Linked DNA regions of Homo sapiens: all the other regions are linked to region 5. Evidence: fine-mapped expression QTL. A gene starts in region 5. Each other region holds a variant in brackets. All regions are shown on one strand. Distances are from middle to middle. Region 1 overlaps LINS1 (lines homolog 1). Region 2 has its middle 33 kb from the start of CERS3. Region 3 holds the start of LINS1 (lines homolog 1). Region 4 has its middle 25 kb from the start of CERS3. Region 5 holds the start of CERS3 (ceramide synthase 3).

Region 1 (5,106 bases), 59 kb before region 5:
CAATGTGTGTACCATTAAAATTTCTCACCTGCATTGGACCTTCATCTTTTATCTGTCAAAGTATAAGGTTATTCATATACGAGGCTGGCTGCAAAATCCTTCACAAATAAAAGTGTACCCCATAAGTGCATACAACAGACCCCCTTTTCATTTCTATTGTTCTTGGACGCATAAACAAAAAATATTCAAAGATAAGACTCTCATAATAGTAGAAGTCTTGATCTGTGATCTTGGGAAAAGCTGTTCACATCAAGGATGCCATGTTCTTCTGGGGAGCGACTTCCTTGGTTAGCTTTACCTTAAGGGTTCCTATGGGTGTACAGTTCCAAGAGTGTGGAGGGACCCTCCTCAGTTGTGAGATTATGAACCCAAAGTTCAGGGTTCCAAAGTTTTGCTGCAATGTGGATGGCAAGGACAATCTTTCTCCAATGTTCTCAGAAGATCTAATCTTTAGGCTCTAGATTTGTGAAGGGGTTGATTGTCCTCAGCAAACCATAAAAAGCTTTCTGTACCTAGTGAAAATACACTGTGGCGTAATGACTTAGTTTTATAACATGAGCCCTCTTGCATGGGAGAGCTTTTATATAACCAGAAAACATGCATTGAAAATAATAATTGAATAAAATCCCTTAAATGGCCCATCAGGTGACCAAATGTACCTGAAGCTTTGATTATTTTCCCAGGAATATGGGCCCAAACATTGGCTATAAAGTATTTCAGTAATTTATAAGCCACCACACCAATATATTCAATTTGGATCATTTTATCTTTTCTATGATGAGTCATGGAATGCAGAACTTTCAATAATAAAAGCTTTAAGGACTCAGAAAGGACAAGGTGACCAACCTGGTCCTCCATGAGTCCATGCTTAATTAATATTAGACTTATATCCTCTTGAATACCAGTTGTTTCTCCACATTAGGTGCATAGCACTGGTAACTGATGGGTTATCATAGGTAAATTGACTTAGATCGTGGAGTTCATTCAAAATATGTATCTAAAACAATTTCAGTATCAGCTGATTTAACATGAAAATCTGACAAAAAGTATTTTCTTGGTACTTAATTCTTGTTCTACTTGGGTTAGCAGCTTTATACAAGGAAATTTGGTTATTTCTGTGGTTTAACCCTTTAAATTAGGCAAAAATGTACATTCCCATGCTTTCTTATAGTCTTTTACCAACAACACCTTTCACTTTTCTTACACACCTTGCATGTAAAACTGTTTCTTCAGTAGTCTCAGTTACATGTTACAATGTTAACTCTTAGCAACTTTTACTTTTGGTGAAAACCTTGATAAGTTTGGGGTTTTAATTAAGTACTAGATGTGGAGAAGCCTAGAACCCAGAAAGAAATGCAGATAAAGTCTGACTTTTTCTAGCATCTAACTCCATGTGTCCCGGGCCCTACCTAGCTGTAAAACAGGCAAATTGTACAGTTAAGAGTCACAGTGGCATTTACAAAGCATTTAGGAGGCCTAATCACCTTTAAATTGTACAACATTTCTTGCATAAATTCTTTTTCATAAATTATTTCATGACTTACACAGACCATCTATCACATGCTTGGACTTTCTGACTTGTCCTAAACACCCCTCTTTTAAACAAGCAGTTATTTTACTTTAGGACAAGAATTTATCATACAAGATCCTTTCTTATATAAAACCTTGTTTGCATAGCTAGAGGGCATGGCTAATTTCACATGTCCCCAAGACTTATCTAGAATCTAATGCTCCAGAATAAATTAAGCAATTTTTAAAAGTCAAAGAAGCAGTTTGTGACCTTAAAGCATTTAGTCAACATAATATCTGACCTGCATAATTTAGACCAAATGTTTACATTTGTGAAGATATTTTTATTTTACCAATAATCTTTAAAAACTGTCTTTATTTCTCAGATTACTTAAGTCACATGAACTAAATGAAAGGCATTACACTTTTTACTTTTCTGACAAAATATTTGATTTAAGCTCTTATTATTAACCAGTTAATTAAAACTCTTTTATATTATACACACAACACATATAAATACACAGAAGATAAAGGATTCATTCCCTGAGCCAGGAATTGAACCCTAAACCCAGGCCACCATTGTGAAAAGAGAAAGTACAGCCACATAGTTACAAGGTCAAGCTCCCAAGGACATGACTGACCAATTGGCTGGGCCATCTTGAATAGTGGGCTTTTGGGGCCCTACACACGCTTTTTATCCTAGGGTACCCCTCTTTATGACAGAAAAATACAGGAAGACACACAGAGCACACCAGATTCACTACAGCTTAAGACCAGCCTCAGAATTCCTTTTGTATTAATTAAAACTTTATAGAGGAGATAAACAGTGACATTTACCTTTCATTTAACCATTTGGCACAAATTGAGAGAGGCCAGTGTCTGACTACTAAGAAATTCTTGCCCTTTTGCCGGCATGCCAGATTTCTGGGCTCTTTCTCCCTGACCAGCCCTGGTGACCCTAGTCAACTGTAATGCAAACAAACACATTCCCATGAATTAAGAATATTCACAAATAGCTTCAAATTTTGGAGAAATTAGGCAGAGTGAGAATTACTACTCAAATTCTATTTACAAAAGTATAATCAAGACACTTAAAGTATCAGGAAGCCTAAACTCCAAAGAAGTTAGTTTAAGATTAAAAAGCTGGTGTGCTCCATTAATTCCTGCAGGCCCAACAAAGGTAGCCTAGGAATTCTGGATAAATGGGACAAATGATGACTTTCTAAAAACAC[A/G]TAGGAAACAGAATATCCACAGAACCAAATAAAAGCCTTCCACTTAGGAACTTAAAAAAATCATGGTTTTATATATATGCATACACGAGCAAAGCCCAGAGGAGAATAAACAGCAAATGAATGAAAACTGGAAGCACAAACAAACAGAAAACCAACCCTAAATTTTCCCACTGAGTCTATCCTGGAGGCTACAGTGTTACCCAGGGCCCCAAAAAACCCACATAATGAATATTTTATTACTATTACACAATTCAGTTTCCTTAAGTTCACCAATATCATTATACATCCTGTGCAATCAAGAAATTCACTCTAGGCACATGACCTATATAAGTACTTCAGTGCCGGCACTATCCATGCAAAACAGTAGACATAGTGTGAAGCAATGCAAGCATGTATGTGAAATTTGGCTCCACACTAAATCCGGCTTCAGGCTTAACTATATTAAAGAATTGCCAAACTGCTAATGTTTTTTTTTTTTTTTTTTTTTTTTTAAGACAGAGTCTCCCTCTATTGCCAGGCTGGAGTACAGTGGTGTGATCTTGGCTCACTGCAACCTCTGCCTCCTGGGCTCAAGCGATTCTGCTGCCTCAGCCTCCCAAGTGGCTGGGAGTACAGGCGCAGGCCACCATGCCCAGCTAATTTTTGTATTTTTAGTAGAGACAGGGTTTTACCATTTTGGCCAGGATGGTCTCGATCTCCTGACCTCGTGATCTGCCCGCCTTGGCTCCCAAGTTGCTGGGATTACAGGCATGAGCCACCGCACCCGGCCACATTTCTTTACAATACTTACTTTATTTTAATCAAGACTAAGAGCTTTAACTGAAAACATTAATTAGCCAAATGTCTCCAATTCTCTGTCAGGTTTTAAATAATATTTTATTATATAAATTTTTTCCACATGTTTATCCGCTACTTACTGGTTTCTTACTATGGTATTTCATAAATAACCTTTTCAAATCTGTATCTGAACTAACTTTTAGATAACTTCTGAATTAGACAAAATTATTATTTTTCTCACTAGTAATATAAACTTTTTGGCACATTTTGTTTACAGAATTATGTGTTAACTAGAATTCTTAGTAACCTAAAACTTGTGTGAAACCCCAAAAAGCAAGAAATCCTGAACCATAAGATGTGGGCATTTATAAATAAGAACAGTTCCACAATTTAGAAACATACTTCCCCATATCACAATCCTTTCTTTATTGGAAATGACCCAGATATTAAATGAGCATCAAAAATAGCTCAAAGCATTTAATTTACACAAAAAGTTTACTTAAAACACTTATCCCATTCACTGTGCTCTGTTCTTTCAGTTTTAACAAGGGAGGCATGAGACATCAATCAAGATATGTAAAATGAACATTGGTTCAGTCCAGAAAGGTGGGACAACTCTTAAGCTGGGAGGGGGCTTCCAGGTCACAGGTAGGTGAGAGACAAACAGTTGCATTCTCTTGAGTTTCTGATTAGCCTTTCTAAAGGAGGCAGTCAGATATGCATTTATCTTAATGAGCAGAAGGATGACTTTGAATAAAATGGGACACAGATTTGCCCTAAGCAGTTCCCAGCTTGAATTTTCCCTTGAGCTTAGTGATTTTGGGGGCCCAAGATATTTTCCTTTCACAGATTTCTCTGATTTGTCAAAAAAACAAGGCATGCAAACCAAGATCATTTTGTTTTGGCTGGGTTTATAGTTTAATAATCTTCTATGCCAAACACTGACATCCCAAAATATCTAGCAAAGACAAACATAAAACCAGACAAAAAATGTATGCTGACGGTTCTGAAGGCACTTCTGTTTTTATTTTACCAATAAGTTTAAAGCCAGCTTATTTAGTAAAGTTATACTTAAGTCATGTGAACTTAAAAATTGCTTAGACTTAGTTAATGTATGAGCACTCTTATAAGTCAGTTCAGTAAACACAACATATAACAATAAGTGTACATACAAATAAACACGTCTAGACATGTACATGTACACATACACGAACGAAGATCCAATAGCTTGGAACCCTAGCCATGAGATAGCAATACAAGCTCGCCAGTTTTACTTTGTTTGCCGCAATAGATAATCCAGTGAAGGCTGTGAACCAAAATTTCGAGTAAAACATTTTCCACGGCAGTTTGATTTTTAAAGGCCAAACCTCCCCAGACTCCAAAGGACACTGGGTCCAAACAGTTCCAAACGAGAGCATCACATGTTAACCAGGCCCCCTGCTCAGAACAGCAGCACAAAAGCCTGGATGCATGCAACACCATCCCACTTTCCCATTCAACAGCAAACTCCAGATTCCAAACAATATTGGGGCCAAACAGCATTGCAACTGCGAGAGAAGGTTCTAAGAAGAGTTTAGGACTAGACCTC
Region 2 (5,099 bases), 34 kb before region 5:
ACTTTAGTGGCAATATAGTGGCTAGAGTTTATTGCCACAATAGAGTGGAAGAGTTTATTGCAGAAATCCCACTGAAGGCAAGGGCAATGGGAATGGGATCCAGGCCTGGCTGAATGCTCACATCAGCTTTTCTGCCCTCAGACACCCACTAACAACAAGAAAGAGGCCAAATCACAAGCAACAAGACACATGCGGACAAAATGGAAAAGGAGAAAACAATTTTGGAAGCTCAAAGGTAGGTAGGTTGAAAACTCGTAACCGCCCAGTGGGTTCATCTTTCCCACTCCCTAAACGAAGCCGATTTATCAAGACAGGAATTTCAATAAAGAAAGAGTAATTCACACAGAGCCGGCTGTAGGGGAGACTGGAGTTTTATTATAACTCAAATCGGTCTTTCCGAGCATTCAGGGATCAGAGTTTTTAAGGATAATTTGGTGGGAAGGGGATGTGAGTCAAGAGTGCTGATTGGTTGGGAAAGAGAAGAGATCAGGGAATTAAAGCTGTCTTCTTGTGCTGAGTCAGTTCCTGGGTGGGGGCCACAAGAACCAAGATCAGATGAGCCAGTTTATGGATCTGGGTGGTGCCAGCTGATCCATCAAGTGCAGGGTCTACAAAATAGTTCCTGACTTAGGAGCAGTTTAGGGAGGGTCAGAATCTTGCAGCCTCCAGCTGCATGACTCCTAAACCATAATTTCTAATCTTGTGACTAATTTGTTAATCCTACAAAGGCAGTCTCGTCCCCAGGCAAGAAGGGGATTTGCCTCTTATCTTTGTTTTAAACTATAAATTCCTCTCAAAATTAGTTCAGCCTATGCCCAGGGATGAACAAGGACAGCTTGGAGGTAAGAAGCAAGATGGAGTTGGTTAAGTCCGATCTCTTCCACTGTCCCAGTTACAATTTTGCAGTGGCGGGTTCAAACTAACTTAGTCGACCCAGGAACATTACATTCCTATCTGGAATGGGGAAAACTGAAAAACCTGACTTATGAGCTGGATTCTTCTGAAGGCTCAGGAGCTTGTAGTCTTGAGTACCATGCTGTACCATGGGGTGGTGGGTGGAAAAGCAATTCAGGAAACAATTACTTCTAGATCCTCTGCCCCATTCCATGTAGTTAGCCATTGCTCCCTCCACCACCTAGCAGATTAGAGGTTAATTCCGGGAGAGTGTGAAACAACAGGTCTTTGGACTGGGGAACACCAGACATAGCTGGAGATAGGAATAACATACTGAAAACAGGATTAATTAAACATTTACATACTAAATATAACCACCATCCTCCCTGGCCTTCTCCCCAACCCTATTGCCAAAACACTTCTAACTCTAAGTAGGAGGCTAGAAGAGACTTTTCTGGGGAATTTAACAAACCCAAGAAAAAAGATCTAAAGACACTGATACTGGGGTTCCCCAAATGAATTACCCAGCCAAATCACCCTACTATGAAGCCCATAGTGGCAAATATCACCATGTACATAGAGCTAACTGGCATTTAAGTGGCTCACTCTTACATATAATGTGAGTGAATAGCCAAGGATCATCAGGAATTAGGGGAAAGCCTCTAACCCAAAAGGCAGAGATCAAAACAAACACGAAACAGATTAAACAAAGAGGAAGTTAATTTATCAATACCCTCAAAGAAATTATAAAGGATACTACATAAAAAATATTCAGCGAGGGGCTGGGCATGGTGGCTTACACCTGTAATTCCAGCACTTTGGGAGGCCAAGGCAAGAGAATCACTTGAGCCCAGGAGTTTAAGACCAGCCTGGGCGACATCATGAGACTCTGTCTCTCCAAAAAAAAAACCTAAATAGTTGAGTATAGTAGTCCCAGCTACTTGAGAGGCTTGGCAGAAGGATGGTTTGAACCCAGGAGTTTGAGGTTACAGTGAACTACAATCGTATAATCGCACCACTGCACTCCAGCCTGGGTGACAGAGCAGAGCAAGACCCTGTCTCAAAAAAGAAAAAAATATTCAGTGGGGAAAAAAATACCTCTTATAAATTAATAATGTGATAGCAAAAATGAAAAAGTAGAAATGTAGTAAAAATAAGTTGAGGAAATCTAGATTTTACAGCAATAGGACAAAGAAATTAGAAAATAGGAGAGAGAGAGATGATATAATGTGAGAACTGGTCACCAAGGTCCAATAATTGAATAATAGAAGTATCAGAAAGAGAAAAAAGGACTGGAAAAGAGAAAGTATAAAAGAAATTCAAGGAAAGTTTTTAGAACTGAAAGACTTAGTCTTTAAATAATGTGTGCAAGTATAACTGGAAAAAAGAATTTAAAAAGGAGGAACAGGATCAACCTGAAATAAAGAGCCATCGTTTCACTGGCATGCTGAGATGCTGCTCTGTTTACTGAAATAAGAAAGTAGGAAGCCTTAGGAGGAAGAAAAGTTCAGTTCTCACCTGAGTGACTTCTGACACTGTTATCAGCACAGCGTGGCATCCAGCAGAGAGTTAGAAATGCTCTGTTGGAAATTAGAAGGACAGAGCCAAATATGAGTCATTTGTGTACAAGTATTATGAAAATCGTAGAAGAAAGTGTGATTGC[G/C]CTGAGAGTGGAGAGAGAAAAGGTGAGGGTGGGTCGGGGGAGTACTGGATAGAATAAGGAAAGTGAGGGAAATTTGAGGCAGGAGAACAGAAAATTCTATGAGGAAACTAAGAAAGGTTTTATAGAGCTTTGAGAAGGAAAATTTATGTGGGGTTTAGTATCTCTGAGAGCAACAGTGGGATGAGATCCGAGAAACCACCAGATGGTTTGACCCTTAGGAAGTAGCTGATGATGTTTAAGAGAGAAATTTTAGGTGGACTCAAGTGTGCACAGGAGGGGAAGAGGTAGAAACCAAGGATGGTGGTTTTCAATTTATTTGTATTCTCTGCACACAAATAATACTGGCATTTTGGGTTGCACCTTTGAAATGACAGGCTGAAAACAATACCATTCAAGTCAGAAATAGTTTTAACACAATCACCAAAGGCAATGTTCCAGAAATCCAAAATATCTCCCTGGGCACCAGCTGGACTTGCTGCTGTACCTCCTACCTCTTCCTTAACACAACCCACTAGGGCTGCACTTGGCAGACATGGACTGCCCAGATGTTTGGACACTTGACCTAAATATTAAACTTTAATTGGTCTTGATTGTCACTTATGACAGTATAAAAATTGTCTTGCTTTATCAAAATGCACATTCAAAAATTATGGTTGACAAAATGCCTTTTCTAACAGTAGGATCATAGATCAGACTAGCAAACCATTTCTGAGTTTTTCTGGTTATTTTAAAGAGGGTAGAACTGAACTCACATCAAAGCCTTTACAGTAAACACCATGTATCCCCTCTTAATTGCAAAGCTGGCCTATATATTTTTTTAAGATAAAGGAAAAGCAAACAGTGATCCCTTTCTAAGTTTGCAGTTCACAATGAACCTTACCAAGTAGTTGGAATGAACTGTAGTCCAGTTACTTACTGCATTGGGTACAATACATGCTTGTGTACACCCTGGATTGCTTGTGTTTTTCCTTTTCAGGATTTTTGCTTTGTTTTCAAAGTACACTTCTCTGATATTTATTTTAAATTTACTTCACATACTGTTTTTTTGCAATGGAATCTCACTATGTTGCCCAGACTAGTCTCAAACTCCTGGGCTCAAAGGATCCTCCTGCCTCAGCCTCCCAAGTAGCTGAGATTACAGGCACACACCACTGTCCCAGCAGTTCTCTGATATTTAGAAGCATTGAGATATGGAATGTGATCTGCCTGTGATTTTCTTTCCAGTGAGAATGGCTCAGGTGTTTGCTGTTTGGTAGAGCCTACCCAATCATTGAAGGCAGTAGAGTTGAAGCATGGTTTTACCTGAAAAATGTGCAATGGCACTATCCTGGCTCACCACAACCTCCACCTCCTGGGTTCAAGCAATTCTCCTGCCTCTGCCTACCAAGCAGCTGGTATTACAGGCATGCACCACCACACCCAGCTAATTTTGTATTTTTAGTAGAGACAGGGTTTCTTAGTGTTGGTCAGGCTGGTCTCTAACTCCTGACCTCAGGTGATCTGCCCACCTAGGCCTCCCAAAGTGCTGGGATTACAGGCATGAGCCACTGTGCCTGGCCATCTGAAAAGCACTTTCTATGCTTATATTGGCAGCACATATACTAAAATTGGAATGATACAGAGAAGATTAGCATGGCCCCTGCTCAAGGATGACATGTAAATTTATGAAGCATTTCATATTTTGTAACTTTAAAAAAAAAAAAAGGCACTTTCTAGGGGTGGCAATCAGAATGTCTGTGTGTTTTTTAAGTGCCTCAAGCCTCCTGTCAGACTCATTTCTCCCTTTGAGGCCTGTGAAGTAAGCACCCCAGAAGCACACTTATAATTGCTGATGACATCTTTTTAAGCTATTCAATAAATTATGAGGAAGTGCAGGTTTCCCCACAGCTAAACTTCTTTTATTTGCTAAGGACCATATATTGTCCATCTCCAAATCAACAGATATTTGTTTTTCTGCAAAACACAAAAGACTACTTGTGTAAAACAGAATTGGATTTTTAACTGTCAGTTTTCCTGAAAATTATCTTTTAATTTTTTTTCTGATTGTGCTATTTTTCTCCACAATAAAGAGAAAGGGTTCCCCTGACTCACTGGACTATTGACAAGTACATCATTTTTGTATCGCATAGCATTTTTTTTTTTTTTGAGATGGCATCTCATTCTGTTGCCCAGACTGGAGTGCAGTGGTGCAATCTTGGCTCACTGCAATCTCCACCTCCTGGGTTCAAGTAATTCTCCTGCCTCAGCCTCCCAAGTAGCTAGGATTACAAGCGTGCACCACCATGTCCGGGTATTTTTTTTTTTTGTATTTTTAGTAGAAATGGGGTTTCACTGTGTTGGCCAGGCTGGTCTCAAACCCCTGACCTCAATTGATCCACCCCCCTTGGCCTCCCAAAGTGCTGGCATTACAGGCGTGAGCCACCACGCGTGGCTCACATAGCATTCTTTGCTTGAATATAGCATATGCCCTCTTGATTGTGTGTCATTTTTAATATGTACAATAAACAATTTGACGATTACATGGAAGGGAAAATGGGTGACG
Region 3 (5,106 bases), 73 kb before region 5:
GGTAATAATGTTGTCTTCATACCATTCACACTCTTAAGGTACACAGGTTGGCTTTCTAGTAGGAAATAAAATCAAACTATTTTCTGAAACTCATAAATCTCAGGCCAATAATTTACCTTTCTCTACCAAATCGTTGTCAGTTAGATAACTCAAAAGATTTTTCTGATGCAGGTAGAAGAAAGGTGATAGGAAAGAGTAAGGGGGAAAACAGTAAATTGTGGTTTAATTAAAAAGGAAAGTCATTCAGAATTAACAAGCAATTAACAAGGAATTGAGGAATTCCTATGAGAGTAAGGAAGGGAGGGTAGCTACAAAAAGGTCTCAAAGCCTCAGAGCAGAGTAAATGGCACAGTGTACCAAAAGATAATGAAAAACACAGAAACACACTGTACAGAAAGAAAGTGGGAAAATACTGTCCTGGGTAGAGAAGTTATAAAATGTTAAGTATCAGGCACGGGTAATGTTTTTGTTTTTCCTGGGAAACTGGGGGTGGGGGTGGGGGGGGTAGGAAAGGTTGCATTCCCAGGCAACCACCCTGAAAATAAACCACTGCTTAATGAGGTAGGGGCCAGGAATAAACAACGGGGGAGGGGAGGGCTGGCTCATTACCTTTACAGACGATGCTGGTCAGAGGCACTGTGCCTTCTGCTTCTCTGATAGGTGGGCAGACCTCTTCCTGCTTTCGCGTCTTCTTCAGCCAGCTCAAACCTAGAAAAACAGAAACCAGTGAGTGGTGTAGTGTCTCAGAGGTGGGGAGGGGGGAGCTCAGGAAAGGGGCTGGAGAGTGGCAAGGGCAGGCAAGAAAAAGCAGAGATTTTCCTCCCTCCTACCCTCCCAGCCAGCACTCTTCCCCTCGGGGGAAGTAAAGGACTTTACCTGTCTCCTCAGCTGCTGCTTCTCTTCCTCCTTTCAGCCTCCTCTACACTCACCAACTTCTCCATTGAAGAAATACCCCAGGCAGGGCCGGACCCTGGTGTTCCTGATCCTCCTCGGTGCCTCACGGCCCCAGCCCGGCGAACATCCGAACAGCCGAGAAGGCAGGAGGTGGCGATCCCGGCCGCCGGGCAGCCTTGGGGCAGAGGTGCAGGGAGGCAGGGAGGAAGTCCTGGCTCGGGTGGGGGGGCAGTCCCGGTCCAGGGCTCGGAGCAGGGGGCTGCCGCGCTCCGGGCCGGAGGCTTCCAGCTACGGAGGGACCCAGGAGGTCTCGGGACGGCGAGGTCCCAGGTCATACGGGGCCCGAAGTGCCAGCCGTGGGGTCTCCGGACAGGGGGCTTTCGGGATGCACTTTGCACTGGGCCACCCCCGCCCCCTCCCTTCAGCACTTTGGGGTCACTGGGATGGGACCAAGCCTTCAACAACCAATCAGCGCCCGCAGTGGAGCCTGAGCCTGGAGCCGTAAACCAGGTCCGGGATGGGTGGGGGTGGAGGGAGTAGGGACGACTTGGTTGGTTGGTTGCTTCCTTCTCTCCTCCTTACCCCCGGCAGCCCCCACCCTCTGCCTGCCGTAAAGTTGCCTTTGCATTCGCGACAGTTAAGGGAGGCGTGCCGAACGGGGCAGAGATTCGTCTCCGATTGGTCTCACTCACTTCCCCTTACAGCTTCCCCGTGGTGGCTTCCGAGGCTCCGCCCCTGGCGGAGGGACTCAAAGCCGTTGCTAAGAGACACTATTCGCCGAAGGCGGTCTCTGCGCATGCGGGAGGAGGTGCCAGCTTGTACTTTCTGTGAACTACGGTGGCCCAGAGCGGGCATTTGTGTTCCCTCAAATGGCGGTGTGAAGAGAGTTCGCCTGAGCCAGATCCCAGGCAGGTAACCGGGACCGGCCGCCGTGCTGGCAGCAGGGGAGGCACGAGTGCGGCCAAATGAGAGCCTGGTTCAGGGCTTAAGGTTGGGAGGGCGGCAGGCTCCAGGAAGCGAGTAGAGGGGTGCCTTGTTTCTCCGCCCCTGTTCAGCGCTTGTCAGACGCAAGTGCCCGGTCTTGGCGCGGCTGTCGGTCCTTGAGACCCCGTTAGCTTCCAGGCTGGCAATGCCTCGCCTGAAGTGGGAGAACGGACTCTCTTTGGGATAGCGATGACGATCCAAGGACCTTCCTGAAAGGATAGCAACGTTGGCGGGTTCCTGTGAATGAATGGAGAGGGGTCGTGGGGAAAACGCGAGATAGACTGATCAAGACACGTTTGTTAAGCACTTTATTCATTAGCAAGTGTTTACTGGCCACTGTTCTAGTCCCTGGGGAGACAACAGTGAACAAGATAGTGATTTCGGGGAAACAAACACAAAATTATCAGATAGGGATGGGTTATATGAGGAAAATCAAGCAGAATGGTGGAATCGATTTTGACCAGGACGTGATGGGCTGTATTAGATAGGTAGTGCTATGGTGTGAATATCTGTCCCCTTCAAAACTCATGTTGAAATTTAATCCCCAATGTGGCAGTACTGAGAGGTAGAGTCTTTAAGAGGTGGTTGGACCGTGAGGGTTCTGTCTTCACGAGTGGATTGATCTATTCATGGATTAATGGGTTATCACGGAGGTAGAACTGGTGGCTTTTTAAGGAGAGACTTGACAACTCGTGAGCCTGCTCAGCCCCCTGGCCACGTGATACTTTGCGGTGCTGTCTCGTGGTCCGTCAGTCTTAGAC[T/C]TCCCAGCCTCCAAAACTAGACAATAAATTACTTTTCTTTATAAATTACCGAGTTTTAGGAATTATTTTATAAGCAACAGGAAACGGACTAAGACAGATAGGAAAGGTCTCTGAGGAAGTGACATTTGAGCAGGGATCTGAATGACAAAGAGCCAGCCATGCCAAGATCTAGGGAGAGAATTTTGCCAGCAGAGAGAATTAGAAATGCAAAGCCTCTGATGCTAGAATATGCTTTGCTGTTTACAGGAACTGCCAGAAAGAAGGCTAGGGTAGCTGAAGCAGAGTGGTAGGAAAATGACTGGTAATGAGACTGGGGAGTGGGGCATAGAGATGAGAAGACGCCGAGAGTCAGATCTTGAAGGGCCTTGGTAAGCCTTGTTTAGGAGTTTGGACTGTATCCTAAGGAAAGTGGATTGGTTTTTCAGAAGGAAGTGGGTGTAGGGTGGGCCTGGATACAACCACTTTGGAAGGGATCGGTTGCAGTTGTCCAGAGTAGAAGTGCAGTAGTGGCAGTGAAGATAGATTCAGCTTTTTAATTTTTGTCCCATTATACTTCCCAGCAATCATATTTCATAATTTCAACTTTCTAAATTTCCATTTCTTCTTGAAATTAGTAGCTGAATTATAATTAGAAACAACTTATTCAGGACTATTAAATGCTATCAATTTTTAGTAGCTTTCGGTCTTTCGATTCTACCATGATTTCTCCCTGTTTTTTTTTTTTTTTTTTTTGCTTAACAGCAGGACTCCAATGTAAACAAATAAAATAAAAGCGGTATTTTATTAGTATTGTTAAATGAAATGTATAGGAAGCCATTGTTTTAGATTAAACCCCTGCACTAGGCCCAACAGACCAGGCCAAATCAGAATGGAGTTGCTGGTGCTAGGTGTCACATAATCAAACAACTTAGAAATGGGCCAGTTGTCAAAAAATCCAGAAGATACACAGCAAGGAGTCAAGGAGGCCTGATTTACCTGAGCCAGCATGATAAAGAAGTCTCTCCTCCATTTGGTCTCTGTGAGGAAAGTTTAACTTTGAAATGACCAATCTGTCTTTTATTCTCTTTTTGCTTCTTCAACCGTTTTCAGCCCACCTCTGCTCAGCTAATCAGAACACCGTTTCTAAATTTTTAGTTGAGATGCTGCCAGATTCATAAATTGCTAATAAAAGCCATTTACATCTTTAAATTTGTTCAAATTTTGTTTGTTTTTGTTTTTGAGATGGAGTCTCCCTCTGTCGCCCAGGCTGGAGTACAGTGGTGCGAGCTTGGCTCACTGCAACCTCCGCCTCCCAGGTTCAAGCAGTTCTCCTGTCCCAGCCTCCTGAGTACCTGGGACTACAGACACACTCCACCACACCCAGCTAATTTTTGTATTTTTAGTGGAGATGGGGTTTTACCACGTTGGCCAGGCTGGTCTCGAACCTCTGACCTCAGGTGATCCACCCGCCTCGGCCTCCCAGAGTGCTGGGATTACAGGTGTGAGCCACTGCACCCAGCCTCAAATTTTGCTTTTTAACAGTTCAAATATAATGTACAAGTTCAGTTTTATAACATTTACTAATTATAGAGTCAAGAAGTTTTGAACTCCCAAAAAGAAGGAAAAAGAGGGAGAGAGAAATGAATAAATATGTAAATTGTTGTGGAGAACATATTCATTCTTATAGCAGACTCGGCACCCATGCAATTCATATGGTGTATTTGCTAAATGATAGTTAAGTAGAGAGATGGGGGCCTAAGAACTTGTTGGTGAAGAGCCTAGAAACAGAGTTGTCTCCTAATTCCTAGTTCTTTGTATTTCTGGCCATTTGTTTTTCATTAAAAATCCTGCCTTTGAGTTAAACAACCATTTTCAAATGATTGAAGTACATGATTATATCATAGCCAAGTAACATCATATTGTCAAAGTTTCACAGAATGTGCTACTAGGTAATTTTAAATTGCTTTATTGAATTGGTGCTATCAGATTTGCTAATTTTTATAACTTTTCAATGATGTAAAAGCAGTTTAGATTGCGGAATATTTATAACAAGTTAATATTGATTAGGTTTTAACAGATACACTTCATTTCCCATTAACTTAGTTAATAATATAAAACTCACAAAAATGGGAACATCTTACAACATATAAGTGAAATAATTTGGGATAAGTATTCATGAAGCTTGATTCATGAAACCCTGACTCAATCAGAATTGAGTTTATTTCTTGAGTAGAAAGAGACTTTGTCATTGGAAAAATGCCCCAGCACCACTGCAGCAATTCTGATTTAGCTGGTCTCTAGGGAGTCCAAGGCTCATGGGTTTTTCCTAATGTTCCAGTGATGTCAGTGTCAAGGTCAGATTCCAAGGTCAAGGACCACTGCCCAGGAGGCTGTGTCCTGGCCCATAAAGCACTTGGTGGTGGAGAGAATGAGCAGGTTATGCTCTAGTTGGCAGCAGGCAGTGTTCTGGGCCAGCAGGTTGTGTCTG
Region 4 (5,106 bases), 25 kb before region 5:
TCATCCGCCCGTCCCTCATCTGCGTCCGGAAGGAATCATCCGCCCGTCCCTCATCTGCGTCTGGAACGAAGTCATCCGCCCGTCCCTCATCTGCGTCCTGAAGGAATCATCCACCCCTCCCTCATCTGCGTCTGGAAGGAAGTCATCCGCCCGTCCCTCATCTGCGTCCTGAAGGAATCATCCACCCGTTCCTCATCGGCGTCCCGAAGGAAGTCATCCGCCCGTCCCTCATCTGCGTCTGGAAGGAAGTCATCCGCCCGTCCCTCATCGGCATCCTGAAGGAATCATCCACCCGTTCCTCATCGGCGTCCCGAAGGAAGTCATCCGCCCGTCCCTCATCTGCGTCTGGAAGGAAGTCATCCGCCCGTCCCTCATCTGCGTCCGGAAGGAAGTCATCCGCCCGTCCCTCATCTGCGTCCTGAAGGAAGTCATCCGCCCGTCCCTCATCTGCGTCTGGAAGGAATCATCCACCCGTCCCTCATCTGCGTCTGGAAGGAAGTCATCCACCCGTCCCTCATCTGCGTCCTGAAGGAATCATCCACCCGTCCCTCATCTGCGTCTGGAAGGAAGTCATCCGCCCGTCCCTCATCTGCGTCTGGAAGGAAGTCATCCGCCCGTCCCTCATCTGCGTCCGGAAGGAGGTCATCCGCCCGTCCCTCATCTGCGTCCTGAAGGAATCATCCACCCGTTCCTCATCGGCGTCCCGAAGGAAGTCATCCGCCCGTCCCTCATCTGCGTCTGGAAGGAAGTCATCCGCCCGTCCCTCATCTGCGTCCTGAAGGAATCATCCGCCCGTCCCTCATCTGCGTCCGGAAGGAGGTCATCCGCCCGTTCCTCATCTGCGTCTGGAAGGAATCATCCACCCGTCCCTCATCTGCGTCCGGAAGGAAGTCATCTGCCCGTCCCTCATCTGCGTCTGGAAGGAATCATCCACCCGTCCCTCATCTGCGTCCTGAAGGAATCATCCACCCGTCCCTCATCTGCGTCCGGAAGGAGGTCATCCGCCCGTTCCTCATCTGCGTCCGGAAGGAATCATCCACCCGTCCCTCATCTGCGTCCTGAAGGAATCATCCACCCATCCCTCATCTGCGTCTGGAAGGAAGTCATCCGCCCGTCCCTCATCTGCGTCCTGAAGGAAGTCATCCGCCCGTTCCTCATCTGCGTCTGGAAGGAAGTCATCCGCCCGTCCCTCATCTGCGTCCTGAAGGAATCATCCACCCGTTCCTCATCTGCGTCCTGAAGGAAGTCATCCACCCGTCCCTCATCTGCGTCTGGAAGGAATCATCCACCCGTCCCTCATCTGCGTCCTGAAGGAATCATCCACCCGTCCCTCATCTGCGTCTGGAAGGAAGTCATCCGCCCGTCCCTCATCTGCGTCCTGAAGGAATCATCCACCCGTCCCTCATCTGCGTCCTGAAGGAATCATCCACCCGTTCCTCATCGGCGTCCCGAAGGAAGTCATCCGCCCGTCCCTCATCTGCGTCTGGAAGGAATCATCCGCCCGTTCCTCATCTGCGTCCGGAAGGAATCATCCGCCCGTCCCTCATCTGCGTCCCGAAGGAAGTCATCCGCCCGTCCCTCATCTGCGTCCCGAAGGAAGTCATCCGCCCGTCCCTCATCTGCGTCCGGAAGGAAGTCATCCGCCCGTCCCTCATCTGCGTCCGGAAGGAAGTCATCCACCCGTCCCTCATCTGCGTCCGGAAGGAAGTCATCCACCCGTCCCTCATCTGCGTCCGGAAGGAAGTCATCCGCCCGTCCCTCATCTGCGTCCGGAAGGAATCATCCACCCGTCCCTCATCTGCGTCCTGAAGGAATCATCCACCCGTTTCTCATCAGGCTGTGCTGGACGGGGCATGACTAGCGCTTCCTCTGCAGGCTCATGGAGTATGTTCCGGGCTGTGAGCTCTTCAGCTACCTGCGCAACCGGGGGCTCTTCTACTCTGCAGAGATCATCTGTGCCATCCTGCACTCTAAGGAGATCATCTACAGGGACTTGAAGCCGGAGAACATCCTGCTGGATAGGGACGGACACATCAAGCTCACGGACTTTGGGTTCGCCAAGAAGCTGGTAGACAGGACTTGGACCCTCTGCGGAATACCCGAGTACCTGGCCCCCGAAGTCATTCAGAGCGAGGGTCACGGAAGGGCTGTGGACTGGTGGGCCCTCAGCATCCTGATATTCGAGATGCTCTCGGGATTTCCTCCATTTGTGTGTGTGTGTGTGTGTGTGTGTGTGTGTGTGTGTGTGTGTGACAACATGTTTGGCATTTATCAGAAAATTCTTGCAGACAAGATAGATTTCCCCAGACATTTGGATTTCCATGTGAAAGATCTCATTAAGAAACTGCTCGTGGTTGACAGAACAAGGTGGTTAGGAAATATGAAGAACGGGGCGAATGATGTGAAACGCCATCGGTGGTTCCGCTCTGTGGACTGGGAAGCTGTTCCTCAGAGAAAACTGAAGCCTCCCATCGTGCCCAAGATAGCCCGCGAAGGCGACACCTCCAACTTCGGAACTTACCCCGAGAATGACTGGGACACAGCCGCGACCGTGCCGCAGAAGGGTTTAGAAATCTTCAAGAATTTCTGAGGACAGGAGCTCACATCTGGAAGAAGCAGGAAGGCTGGAATCTGCCTGCAACAAAGAGCTGCTCCTGAGCAGACCAGTAGCAATGTCTTCTTCACGTGATAAGGACATTTCCACTTTTCTGTCTTTGTGCCTGTATGTATAGAAACAGATCAGAGCACAGTTGAAATTAATGTAACTGGCATTATTTAAGCAACTGGAATTCCACACTGTAGGAAGGTTTTGAAAATTGTTTGCTTGTAGATTTTATCTTATCCTTTAGTGTTGTGTTCCTACTGTGATGTCTTGGTTTTTCTCATAGACTTAAGTTTATAAGTTTGAACTGGACTTGTTCAATTATAACCACAAATTGTGTGTGTGTGTGTGTGTGTGTG[C/TGC]ATGCGCGCGCCTGTGTGTATATATAGAAGTCATTATGGCAGATCCACAGAAATTGTGCAATGATGTAAATGTTCATACTTCACAGAGCCTATAATTTTTATTTTTCAATTTGTTTTTTCAAAAATCTCTTCTCTTGGGGACAACATCTGAAGGGTCTGTTGCATGGATTTAAAAAAATCATCTCACATGCATTTTTTAGTTTGGGTGAAGAAAACATCATGGGGAGGTCCATCTTCAGTATCTTTAGTGCTTCCTACCTGGTAACTTGAGACTTTAAAAGAAGAAACAAAGAGAAGAAGATATGGGAGTGAATTTATTCCAAGAATCTACAATGACATTGAAGTTGTTGGAGGAATATACTGTATTTAAAAAACCTGTGTCACATTCAAAAATTTCATCTAAGCTGGGCGCAGTGGCTTGTTCCTGTAGTCCCAGCACTTCAGGAGGCTGAGGTGGGTGGATTGCTTGAGCCCAGGAGTTGGAGACCAGTCTGGGAAACATGGTGAGATGTCATCTCTCTACAAAATACAAAAAAATTAGCCGGGCATGGTGGCGCTTGCCTATAGTCTCAGCTACTCGGGAGGCTGAAATGAGAGGATCACTTGAGCCCGGGGAGGTCCAGGCCGCAGTGATCCGAGATCACACCACTGCACTCCAGCCTGGGTGACAGAGTGAGACCCTGTCTAAATTAAAAAAAAAAAAAAGGCAATGGCTTTGTGCTTTTGAAGGTGGAATGAAAGGTGGAATGAAGACACATCCACCTTAAGGCTTTAAAAGACCATGAAGCTGGGTGCAGTGGCTCACTCCTGTAATCCTAGGATTTGGGGAAGCCAAGGCAGGAGGATTGCTTGAGCCTAGGAGTTTGAGACCAGCCTGGGCAGCATAGCAAGACCCCATCTCTATAAAAGGAAAAAAATGTTAAAACACAGTGAAACTGCAGAAACAGAACATAGCCACCCTTTTTCATTAATGACCTTTTCTTCACGTGGTGGTCAACTCAGCAGGTGAGAATAATTAGTAGGTTCAGTAGAATAAAGTCTTTACAATTAATAACTTAGTGGAAAATGATGTTCAGATGATGAAATGTGGAAATGTTTTAGACAGCTGTATTTTCAGCCTGTGTGTCTCAGTCACCATCCTGTTGGGATTAACAGTTGAGGGCCATCATTTTCTAAACATTTCACATGCAGTTTCCCATAATTTTTACCGTGAATGTGAAAAGGTGAAACTGGTGCTGACTTCAGCGGCAGGTATACTAAAATTAGAATGACACAGAGGAGATTAGCATGGCCCCCTGTGCAAGGAAGATCCAGATTCATGCCGCATTCCATATTTTTTTTTAAAAAAGGTTACACTGTGCACCGAGATGTGCAGCTAGAAGGAAGAGCATGAAGTCTCGTGTTTGCTGACTATAAAAATAAATCATAGTAATAATATTGTTGAAAATTCTGCTTTAAAAATTATTAATAAAACCATAAATGAAACACTATTCTTGAGCACACTTTAAAAAGTACATAGACCCATAAGTCCATGTACTAAAAAATGCCTATTTTTAGGTTGCCTGTTTTGTAATCCAGGATTTCATACTGAGATGAAAATTAGCATCAGGAAAAGCCTGAAATGCCTTGCCTTAATTGTGAACAGATACTGGGGAACCTGCCCCGATATTCACGTAGGTTCTTTTCTGTTTTCCTTAAGCATCGGCCAGCTTGAGAAATAAAGGGACAGAGTACAAAAGAGAGAAATTTTAAAGCTGAGCGTCCGGGGGAGACATCACATGTCGGTAGGTTCCGTGATGCCCCACAAGCCACAAAAACCAGCAAGTTTTTATTAGGGATTTTCAAAAGGGGAGGGAGTGTGCGAATAGGTGTGGGTCACAGACATCAAGTACTTCAGAAGGTAATAGAATATCACAAGGCAAGTGGAGGCAGGGTGAGATCACAGGACCACAGGACCGAGGCGAAATTAAAATTGCTAATGAAGTTTCGGGCACCATTGTCATTGATAACATCTTATCAGGAGACAGGGTTTTTGAGATCAACCGGTCTGACCAAAATTTATTAGGCGGGAATTTCCTCTTCCTAATAAGCCTGGGAGCGCTATGGGAGACTGAGGTCTATTTCACCCCTGCAGTCTTGACCATA
Region 5 (5,106 bases):
TAACCTCTGTCTCCTGGGTTCAAGGAATTCTCCTGCCGCAGCCTCCCGAGTAGCTGGGATTACAGGCGCCCACCACCATGCCCAGCTCATTTTTTGTATTTTTAATAGAGATAGGGTTTCACCATGTTGGCCAGGCTGGTCTCAAACTCCTGACCTCAAGGGATCCTCCCACCTCGGCCTCCCAAAGTGCTGGGATTACAGGTGTGAGCCACTGTTCCCAGCCTGGTTCCCCAATATTCTTTTGGCTTGTTTAATTCTGAGTAAGAGAGTCCAAAATAGGGTTCAGGACATTCTTTTCCCGAGATATCCCCGGAGTGAAAATGAGTGTTGGATGATCACTATTTTGGGTACTAATTGTTTGACCAGTATTGAACAGCTGAGCTCCAGGGGTAGAAAGAGATCTAAGGCTTGTCCAGTGAGGATTCCCAAAGTAGTGGGGAAGCAGATACAAAAATCAGTTAAGTTGTGATAGAGTAGTAGGTGTTGCAATAAAGGTATACCCACAGAACAGAGAGGGCCGAGGCTAGGGAAGCTTGAGCAGGATTCAGACTTTCATTAGGCACAGAGGCGAGAGAGCAGCTCATGGCAAGGGCCCAGAAGCTGCCCACTGTTGTGTCTGGAATCTAGTGGGAAAGGGCAAAAGGAAGTCCTGGAGCAGCAGGTTGCGAGCAGGCCATTGTGCCAAGGAGTCTGGTCTTGATCCTATAGGTAGAAGGTGGCTGGTAGAGTTTAATCAGCAGAAGAAAAAGAAATGAGAATGGGAATGTGAGTTAGGTGACAATTGGATGAAGATGGAAGCCTCATGTCAGGAAACCAATTCTGCAGTGGTCTCCTGGCAGAAGGTGAGGCAGACCTGAACTGAGCCTACCTCGGTTAGTGGCCAAGTCTGCTTTAAATTCATCCCTTCTGCCAGATGGTTTTAAAAATGCATGAGCCCATTACTGAAAAACAGAACGTCTTCGAAGAGAAAGGCAGACCGGGAAGCCCTGAGTGAGAAGTACCCAGTGAAAGGAAGGGCGTTTATCAATCCTCTCTCTTTGAACTAAATTCATTAGTGAAATCTGAGAAACTTTGGAGCTTTAATGAATTTGAAACTGGTGTTTCCCTTTATCTGCATCTAGTCCATTTTTAATTTGCGGTCATCTATTAGCTGATGAAAAAAGAAAAATGTCTTTCAGCAGTTGAAGACAGCTAATGAGAATCAGGCTCTCAGTGTGGGCGGTACTGCTGATGTTTGGTTTGTGAGAGATACAGGAATCAACTTGTTGAAGCTCTCTACTTGTCAGAGCACCTTTAAATAATCCAAGCCCAGAGTTGTTTCATCTTCAGGCAAGAGAAAGTGAAAATGGCTTCAAAGGTACAATATCTCAAATAAACACTATAAAATGCATCCACACTTGCCTTTGAAATTGTAGTGGTTCAAGCACACAGAGACAAGCAACAATGTTTATTTCCTGATACTAATGAGCTTGTCTGTCTTTGTCTATGATGATTGTTCTTAGAGACAAACAAATAAAAATGCGAATTATATCTGACTGTTCTAAGAAGAAAAGATTGCCAGACTATTGTATTTTTTGGCAGTTATATGCTTCAAAAAACTGATCGTTTTCTCAATTCCTAGGAAGCGGGCAGAGAAATCACATTCCTGTGGACCAATGCTCCTTAGTGGATGAGTTTTGTGGCATGGTGGTGATTTAGTTAGTAAGAAGCCCTGCCTGTTTTCTGGAGAGTACTATACTTGTCGAACCAGCTCCTAGGACAGTACAGGGTTGTGACTGGTGTTTTGGGGTTCTCTCTGCGCATAAGCCCTTTCCTTTTAATACAAACAGCAAGATCATCCTGTTCAGCAGTTGACAGATGACTGTGTGCACCAAAAGGCAACAACGATGAGGCAACTGATGCATTTGTAACTCAATGTCTCACTGAATTCCAGCTTTCTTTTCTCAAGGTGGTGAAACAGGAAGCAACATCCCATCAGGAAGAACCTGAGGGTGCCATCCAGTAGCTTCGCCTCACGTCACTGACTGCCCTCAGTCAGAAATCTTGACTCGCAACTTTGGAGGGTGGGTCTCTGAAGGAATTTCAGGTCTTACACAGAGATGAGTTGTGCTGCTCTCTGAGGAGAACGAAGCTGGTTGGAACGTTGGAAGCTGCTCTCTGACTACACTTCACAAGCAAGGGGCACCTTTTGTGGACTGACATTTCAGAAAGGTAGGCGCCATCCCATGGATGTGGTTAGTATTTGAGGACTTTCAAAACCAAGGTGGCCGTGATTCCGCGTGTGAGCTTGTGTGTGTATGTGTGCCTGGGTGCGTAACAGAGAGGGAGAGGAGATGGAGATTGGGGGAGAGGCGGACAAATGAAGAAATGTTCATTTTTGGTCTGATGTTTGGGAGAAATACAGAAAAGACAGACTTGGGGCCCTTTGCTTTGTAGAGTTTTGCTTGGAAGTGTTTAGTAGTAGAGGGTAAATTTCGAGTCCAAACTTCCACTCCTGACCTGCATTGCTCTCGGGCGAGTTTAAACTGATTCATTGAGGGTTAGGAAGAAAGGTCTGGGCAGTGAAATCACACACGGCTGAATGCTCAGCATAGCTTGGTTTATCAGGAAAGCCCTGAATCCAGGTGGAATGAAAGGGGTCAGCACAGATCTTTGCCAGGTGGCAAAGGCCATTTCAGACCATCCCAGAGTGCCTTAAGCTGAGAACAAGGTGGGACTTGCTCACCCCACAGTGGCAGGCCTTCCTAAGCTGCTTCTGTCTTGAGAGATGTAGTGCTCAATGTCATGCCAGGAGAAATTAGCTGTTCGGTTCTAAGGCTGCCAGTCTCATGCAGAAAAGTGAAACAAAATCAAACTACTTTTTCTGATCCAAGCAAATGTTTAGCAAGAATGTTCTGTTAAGCATTTTTATTTTTTTGAAACCTTTACACAAAACAAGGGAAATAAAGCTTTAGGGCTGACCAGATAATGAATTTTAATTTATTCATTAACCCACAATGTTCAAGTGCCTTCTCTACCTTAAGTGAGTGTTTGACTTTAAACTTCACATTTTCATTGCCTTCCCCCCTACAAGCCTTTTGTTTTTCTTAAAAGGGGTTTCCATTTATAATTTCTTCAGTAGAATTTCTGGATAAAAAGTTCTTTAAAGAGAAAATATGTATATGTTCAAAAAGGTAATAATTATGTGGCCCTCTCATTCACAATATTTCTGCCTTTTTCTAAAATATCAATCAAATTGATTTACATAAGTTTGAAGATCATTCTGGGCTAATAATAATCTACATTTACTAAGTCCTTGCTGTGTGTACGTGCATTTTCCCCTTTAGGGCTCATGATACGCCACTTTCAGACGAGGAATTGAGGCTTAGTGAGATTTACAGTGGTACAGTAGGGATGTGAGAAAGCCACAGCTTTATTGCATTTCTGCACACTAAGATATATGATTTCAGCTCATTCTATATTCCCATTCTATTCCATTAACCCCCTACAGGGTCCTTGTGTGGAGGGATTCCTGAAGCTATGATAATATTCAAATACTCGAATTTGGTGTCTTATAACAAAAGGCCAAAATCAATCAATCAATCTATCACCTGCTTCTGCTGTTGGAGGAAGGCTTGGTGTGGTGGACAGAACATTGACTAGAAAGACAGATCAAAATTCAAATTCCTGCATCCTGCTTACTAACTATGACCCTGGCAAGTCACTGAAATTCCTTTTTTATTTTTTTGAGATGGAGTCTTGCTCTGTCACTGAGGCTGCAGTGCAGTGGCATGATCTTGGCTCTCTGAAACCTCTGCCTCCTGGGTTCAAGCGATTCTCGTGCCTCAGCCTCCCAAGTAGCTGGGAGTATAGGCATGTGACACCACACCTAGCTAATTTTTTTGTAGTTTTAGTAGAGATGGGGGTTTCGCCATGTTGGTCAGTCTAGTCTCGATCTCCTGGCCTCAAGTGATCTGCCCACCTCAGCCTCCCAATGTACTAGGATTCCAGGCATAACCCACCACACCTGGCCTCAGTGCAATTCTTCAAATCTCAGTTTCCTTATTTATAAAATAATTATTATAACATCCATCAAACGAGGTTGTTTATTATAAGACATAAAAAGGCAGGGTATGTCAAATGCCTTCCATAGGACCTGACAGAGGGTAGGCCCTTGGTAAACAGTATTCATTTCCCCATTTTGCAGTGATTTCTTCATGCTCTTGACATGTTGGATCCTGTTCTAGGATTGGGGGTATCACCAGTGAACAAAGCAGACAAGTCCCTGCCCTCAGGGAGTTGCCTTTCCACTGGTACTTGTTCCTTATATCCTAGTGTACTTTCTTGGGAAATCACTTTGTGATTATCTTTCTTTGTGGAGCTGATCCAGCTTTCAAACAGCCTCTTAAAGTAATGAATGTCCTATGCCAAAAGTCCCCCAAAGCATAGTAAAATCAAGCAAAAAGCAAGAACATCAGATACTTCTTTTTCAAAAGTCAGTTTGTTGTGGTAGGCCAGGAAAGTTGTTTTTACACACACACACACACACACACACACACACACACAGTTTATGTAGGTTTTCCCTGGCCTCCACACCACAGCAGAAGCACTGCCAGGAGCTGGCAGAGTGCTCATGGGAGGAGGGTGCTGGGCTGGCTCCAAGGGAGCTCCCTCCGCTCACAGAGCACGGAGTGTATCGTGGCAACTGTTCATTTATCTTGGGCCCCAAGCCATCCACACAAGAAGCTTGGACTTTCCAAGCCCTCCCCAACACGAATTTATGGGATGCGATGCAAAGATTGACCTGCAGGTGTACACCTTTATAAGGATGGATTTGGGACAAAAACGATTGACTTATGTTTTGGCAAAAAGCCTGCAGTCAAGTTCATCAAGTAGGCCAGCTGGCATCAAGAATGGTGTTTTGGCAATCTATCTCTATGTTTGAATCCAGAGAAACTGCAGATCATAGCAGAGAGATAGCAGAGGGGAACACAGAGAAGCTCTCTCTGGAATCAGATGCAGGTAGATTCTTCTTTCTCCTGGAAACACCTCAACACACAATACAACGATCTAATTGATCTTATACAGCCCGAGTTTATGGTTTTATTTACTGGATGGACCCAGGAT

Evidence for each region.
Region 1: its variant is fine-mapped to the expression of CERS3 in whole blood (TOPMed, PIP above 0.99).
Region 2: its variant is fine-mapped to the expression of CERS3 in cerebellum (GTEx, PIP 0.97).
Region 3: its variant is fine-mapped to the expression of CERS3 in activated naive CD4 T cells (Schmiedel 2018, PIP 0.95).
Region 4: its variant is fine-mapped to the expression of CERS3 in activated CD8 T cells (Schmiedel 2018, PIP 0.95). The same link has a PIP of 0.9 or more in Th1 cells.

Annotation. Positions count from the first base shown.
Region 1 is chr15:100,585,284-100,590,389 of GRCh38, reverse strand. The region is part of intron 1 of LINS1 (lines homolog 1); the gene reads left to right. Among named protein-coding and RNA genes, the nearest start is that of LINS1, 14 kb to the left of the region's middle. RefSeq lists a silencer at 1,440-1,640. The variant A/G (reference allele first, on the strand shown) is at 2,742.
Region 2 is chr15:100,559,828-100,564,926 of GRCh38, reverse strand. It overlaps the pseudogene RNU6-181P. Among named protein-coding and RNA genes, the nearest start is that of CERS3, 33 kb to the right of the region's middle. The variant G/C (reference allele first, on the strand shown) is at 2,558.
Region 3 is chr15:100,598,817-100,603,922 of GRCh38, reverse strand. It overlaps LINS1 (lines homolog 1), which reads left to right and starts at 1,739. Exons shown (of 7, transcript NM_001040616.3): 1 at 1,739-1,802. ASB7 (ankyrin repeat and SOCS box containing 7) reads right to left here and starts at 1,334. Exons shown (of 6, transcript NM_198243.3): 1 at 877-1,334; 2 at 610-708. RefSeq lists silencers at 552-601, 1,052-1,311 and an enhancer at 1,482-1,821. The variant T/C (reference allele first, on the strand shown) is at 2,640.
Region 4 is chr15:100,551,013-100,556,118 of GRCh38, reverse strand. It overlaps the pseudogene PRKXP1 and the pseudogene RNU6-322P. Among named protein-coding and RNA genes, the nearest start is that of CERS3, 25 kb to the right of the region's middle. The variant C/TGC (reference allele first, on the strand shown) is at 2,962.
Region 5 is chr15:100,525,918-100,531,023 of GRCh38, reverse strand. It overlaps CERS3 (ceramide synthase 3), which reads left to right and starts at 2,074. Exons shown (of 12, transcript NM_001378789.1): 1 at 2,074-2,211.